2 separate regions of the Homo sapiens genome follow, and region 2 is linked to region 1. Evidence: fine-mapped expression QTL. Tissue or cell type: thyroid. Region 1 holds a variant in brackets; the other region holds the start of a gene. All regions are shown on one strand. Distances are between the middles of the regions.

Region 1 (2,840 bases):
AGGAACCTCAGGGGCTATGCAGCCCCCGCCAGCTGCCCTCGAATCCCGTCCAGGCCAATTCCAGATTCTAAACTGATTTTTTTCATGATATTGTCAAAACAGTGAGGAAACATTAAAAAAAAAGCCCTAAAGCACGCCTGGTGTCTGTCTCTGCTTTTTGGGAGGGCTATTTCAGGATGGGGGTGGGGTCTGGACCCAGGTCCTAGAGCTGTCCAGGGGGGCCTGAGGTGGCTTCTGTCTCTCTGTCCGTGAGGACCCGCCCTTCCTGCGATGCTGTCTGCCTGGGCAGGCCCCTTCAGAGTCTGGGGACTCAGGTGTCCCTAACTGCCATCTCTTGGAAGCCCTTGGCACTTGGTCGCTTAGCTGTTCTGTGCCTCCCTCTCCTGCTCTGTAAAATGGGTATCCTGCCACTCTTAGAGGGTTGAGGCACAGAAACAGTGACATGGGCTTTTTGTGGGGGAGGGGGTTGGTTTTTTGTTTTTTTTTGTTTTTTTTTTTTGTTGTTGTTGTTTTGTTTTTTTTGAGATGGAGTCTCACTCTGTCGCCCAGGTTGGAGTGCAGGGGTGTGATCTCAGCTCACTGCAACCTCCGCTTCCTAGGTGCAAGCGATTCTCCTGCCTCAGCCTCCCAACTAGCTAGGATTACAGGCGTGCGCCACTACACCCAGCTAATTTTTGTATTTTTAGTAGATACTGGGTTTCACCATGTTGGCCAGGTTGGTCTCCAACTCCTGACCTCAAGTGATCCGCCCACCTTGGCTTCCCAAAATGCTGGGATTACAGGTGTGAGCCACCGTGCCGGTCGACATGGGCTTTTTATACAGTTGTGATTAGGATGAGAGTGACTGTGTTCTCCCCAGCCCCCTGGTGTCCTGGTGCACGGAACTGTCACCACCAGAAAGTGGCTGGCCCTGAAGGCAGTTTCTGCATGATGCTGGGAGCGGGGCTACCACCTCCTCTTTCCCCTTTTACCGTTAAGCCTGGAAAATCAGCTTACAAGTGGCAGGTCCTCAGTTCAACCTCACTTCTCAGGGAGATAGAAGCTCCACATCCCCATTTTCCAGATGGAGAAAGATGATCAGATAAGCCTCGAGGCCGCCTTCTCTAATGCCCAGAATTCATTCAAAACTCCTGCCCTTCTCACCCCACCACTCCTGGGCACATCAAAACCTCGGGATATAAAGTCAGGGGGTGAGGGTCTAGTGGCCCCTGAACCCACTGCCCTGCCCCTGCCCTACCACCTCCTTCCCTTGAATCATGTTCCCCTCTTTCTGGACAGCTTCAGAAGGGAGCCCTGGTCTGCGTAGGGCTGGCTCACTGCTTGTTGAAGCCCCCGCTTGCTCTCAGGAAATCTGGGGAAAT[C/A]TTGGGGATCTCAATGTGGCTGAGTTCCTGGTGGAAACCCTGCACTCTCCCCTGAGCACCCACAGAGAAATGTGAGTTCCCCACTCATCTCCCTGGAAAGCAATTAGAGGCATAATTAAAATGTCACTCAGGTCCCTCCCTCTGTCCCTAGACAGGCTCATTCGTGTGGGAGTTATGAGCGGGGACTTCTGGCTGCCCCAAGGGAAGAAGAGAGAGGGAGGAGAGCTGGGGCCCATTGGGAGACGGGTCCCTAGGGGCTACAGTCTAGCTCAGGGATGACTGGGGAGAGGAAGGTACTGTTCAGGCGAGGACCAGGCAGATGAGAAGGGGCTGTGCCTCCCAGACACAGTGCAACCTCCCAAGAGAGAGAAATGACTGTACCTACACCGACTAACCAGGGACTCCCTAGGGGCCCAGAGAAACCAGCCGCCCCGAGCCCCAGAATCTGTTTCTTGACCATTGATGGAAAAGCTCTGAGCATTCAAGAAGACCCGGGGACCTGGCTTGATTCACAGCTTTAAGGAGCATACCTTCTGGCTGGGGGTTCAGTGGACCCAGGAGACAAGGATGAGATGAACACGCAGAACCAGCCAGGCCACAGAGCTCTGTTAAGATTTGCTGGGAGCCAGGCGCCGTGGCTCACACCTGTAATCCTAGCACTTTGGGAGGCTGAGGCAGGAGGATCCCTTGAGACCAAGAGTTTGAGATCAACTTGGGTAACAGCGAGACAACATGTCTACCAAAAAATAATTTTTTTTTTTTGAGATGGAATCTCGCACTGTCGCCTGGGCTGGAGTGCAGTGTCACGATCTCAGCTCACTGTAACCTCCGCCTCCCAGGTTCAAGCAATTCTCCTGCCTCAGCCTCCCGAGTAGCTGGGATTATAGGCGCCCACCACCAGGCCCAGCTAATTTTTTGTAATTTTAGTAGAGACGGGGTTTCACTATCTTGGCCAGGCTGGTCTCGAACGCCTGACCTCATGATCCACACACCTCGGCCTCCCAAAGGGCTGGGATTACAGCCATGAGCCACCGCAGCCAGCCAATAAATAAATTTTTTAAAAAAGATTTGCTGGGTAGCCTTGGGCCAGTTATTTTCTCGCTCCAATTGGCTTCAGTTTCTCCATCTTTAAAATTAGGCAGTAGCTCAGTTGTTTTCAACTTTTTACCAGAAGCTTTGTTTGCAATGAGGTCATGCTATTTTTTTTAATTGATTTTTTTTTTTCTTTTCCGAGAACGGAGTCTCGCTCTGTTGCCCAGGCTGGAGTGCAGTGGTGCAATCTTGGCTCACTGCAGCCTCCACCTCCCGGGTTCAAGCAATTCTCCTGCCTCAGCCTCCTGGGTAGCTGGGATTACAGGTGCACGCCACCACACCCGGCTAATTTTTGTTTGTATTTTTAGTAGAGACGGGGTTTCATCATGTTGGCCAGGCTGATCTCAAACTCCTGACCAGGTGATCCGCCCACCTCGGCCTCCCAAA
Region 2 (2,651 bases), 20 kb after region 1:
TGAGGATAGGGACGTGGCCCTAGTGCAGAGATGCTCAGGGATGTTTAGGGAAGGAAGTCATCAAGAGACCTAGATGTGAACCCCATCCATAGCGCCTCCCAAACCATGTGGTCTTGGCCTCCCTGGGCTTTGATTCCCTCATCAGTCCTGCCTGCGCTGCCAGGCTTCTGTGAGCCTTTAATGAGCCTGTGTTGACAGATGAATGCATTCTTGGGACTACTAATCAACGCATACAACTAAGGCCAAGAGAAGCCAGGGTTTCTACCCCAGGGACCCCCTTGGCCCCACCCTCTAGCCCTGGAGCTGGGTCCCTCTGCCTCTCCCAGGATGCAGTCAGAGGCCTGAGCTTCTGGAAACTCTTGGATCTCGTCCCTGCTCCTCCCAGTCCCACCTCGGCTCCAGGTGTCTATCTCTCCAGCTATTTTCTTTTCTGATCTGGAGTTCAAAAGAACAGATCTAGGAGCAACAGCCACGGGGAACAACAGCCAGCAGGCTAGTTCATGTTGGCCCAGCTGAGAGCCTGCGGGGCTGCCCACCTCTCCCTGCTGGGTTTGGGCACCCAGAAAGGAGGGCGTATGGGTTCTGGTTCTATGGGCATTAAAAGCCAATGTGACTGAGAACAGCAGCTCTAGTTAGAGGCAAGGCCAGTTTGGGGCCAGAGCAGGGGGAGGGGGAACCTGGTCTAATTAGAGCCCTAACATGCTCCTTTGAAAGCATTGTCAGATGTCCCCAGCCCTGCAGGCAGGGGTGGTGTAATAATAATAAAACAACATTTGCATAGAGATTTCATTTATAAAGCACTTTCTCAGGGGTGGGGTGGCACTGGGTGGCCCTGTGGAATCCTGGCTGGGAGGCCGCCCTGGCCTTGGTCGGTTCCGCCCTCCCGCCAAGCTGGCGATTGTGTGCGAGGTAAACAAAGCGCCATTCATCCAACTGTTTCAGTTCCTCTCCTCTTCATTCCTTTTTCCCTGTCTCCCACGAAGAGCTCACTCGGGGCTTGTCACTCAGGCCAGAAAAGGGGTGTCAGGGGCCCCAGAGGGAGACCCCTTCCCTCATGGGAAGAAGCGGGGAGGTGGGACGGCTCCCTCCCTCTGCAAACCCCCACCACCCCCAGCTCTGGCAGAATAACAGCCTTGCTGCGGTTGGTTTGTGCAACTCTTTGCTAACCTGTGGCTGTGTCTTCATGGACAAAGTATGAGCCCAGGTTTGGTAATGTCTGTGTGCACGCCACGTTTGTGTTCGGTAACATGCAAAGATAAGCAGTTTGTGGGGCTCTGCGAATCCCTCCCTATCCGAGTGAGCCTTGTGTACACAGTGTGGGGGTGAGGGGCCCTGGGGTGTCTGCCCCTGCACTGGGTGGGCCGGGTGAGGCAGCTGGGCCCTGCTCCTGTACAGCCCAGGCTGGAGCGTCCCCTGCAGTCACCTGGCCACTGGCACCCTGGGGTGAAGGGGGAGGCATTGGGCGCTGGCCCCTTAAGGGCCTCTGATGAGCTATATTGGGCCCACCTGCCTGGGTTCCAGCAGCTTCCGCAGCCCCAGCAGGAGACGGAAGATGCAAGAGGTCATTGCGGGGCTAGAGCGGTTCACCTTTGCCTTCGAGAAGGATGTCGAGATGCAGAAGGGCACTGGGCTCCTGCCTTTCCAGGGCATGGACAGTGAGTGAGGGTGGGGCCACTTTCCCTCCCCTACCTTCTCTGTTTTTTTTTCTTTGAGACGGAGTCTCGCTCTGTAGCCCAGGCTGGAGTGTAGTGGCACAATCTCGGCTCATTGCAAGCTCTGCCTCCTGGGTTCACGCCATTCTCCTGCCTCAGCCTCCCGAGGAGCTGGGACTACAGGCGCCCGCCACCACGCCCAGCTGATTTTTTGTATTTTTAGTAGAGACCGGGTTTCACCATGTTAGCCAGGATGGTCTCAATCTCCTGACCTCGTGATCCGCCCGCCTTGGCCTCCCAAAGTGCTGGGATTACAGGCATGAGCCACCACGCCCAGCCTCCCTCCCCCTTCCTTCTCTACAGGCCTCTCTGCTCAACTCCCTGATGCGACCGCCCCTTCTCTGTCTCTCTCTTCTGTGGCTTCGGGGCAACCCATTTTCCAGACTGAGAAAGAGAGGCACAGAGAGACGGTGAATTGAGAGAAGCCACACTGGCCTCCCGAGCTCCTGGGCCAGGCTTGAGCCCCTCGAGCTCCTCTGTTTCAGAGTTGGGGGGTTAAGGGTTGAGGTCTGCTGGCTGGCTCTGCAGGTTAACCTCTACAGGGCCCAGATTTGGGATCCCATAGGCCAGAGCCTGGGGGAGGTCTAGGTGGGACATGCCGATGGAGGTGGAGGCTTCCGGAACAGCTGCAGCCTCTGGGGAAGCTACCTTCTCCGTTCCCTCTTCTCCTTCCAGAGTCGGCCTCAGCTGTGTGCAACTTCTTCACTAAAGGGCTCTGTGAGAAAGGTGAGTTAGCAGACAGGCCTGGGCCCCAAGCTGGGTGAGTGTAGGGTCTGTCTGAGCTACACCCAGCAGGGGCTCTGCCTGGCCTGGGATAGGGTGTCGAATTTGCACCTGGGGAGGGAAAATTGGGATGGAACGGAATTTTATTTTTATTTTATTTATTTATTTTTAGATGGAATCTCGCTCTGTTGCCCAGGCTAGAGTGATCTGGCGTGA

Alleles and levels. Positions count from the first base shown, and alleles are read on the strand shown. Sizes are in standard deviations (SD) of each study's normalised expression.
For the expression in thyroid of the gene that starts at base 1,491 in region 2, allele C in region 1 goes with a higher level than allele A (moderate effect, 0.42 SD a copy in GTEx).

Evidence for each region. PIP is the estimated chance that this variant, and not a neighbour inherited with it, causes the effect.
Region 2: it holds the start of CPSF4L, and the variant in region 1 is fine-mapped to the expression of CPSF4L in thyroid (GTEx, PIP above 0.99).

What each region holds. Positions count from the first base shown.
Region 1 is chr17:73,280,918-73,283,757 of GRCh38, reverse strand. CDC42EP4 (CDC42 effector protein 4) reads left to right here. Exons shown (of 2, transcript NM_012121.5): 2 at 1-134. Among named protein-coding and RNA genes, the nearest start is that of CPSF4L, 20 kb to the right of the region's middle. RefSeq lists an enhancer at 1,864-1,993. The variant C/A (reference allele first, on the strand shown) is at 1,362.
Region 2 is chr17:73,260,720-73,263,370 of GRCh38, reverse strand. It overlaps CPSF4L (cleavage and polyadenylation specific factor 4 like), which reads left to right and starts at 1,491. Exons shown (of 6, transcript NM_001129885.1): 1 at 1,491-1,655; 2 at 2,388-2,438. The coding sequence starts at 1,553.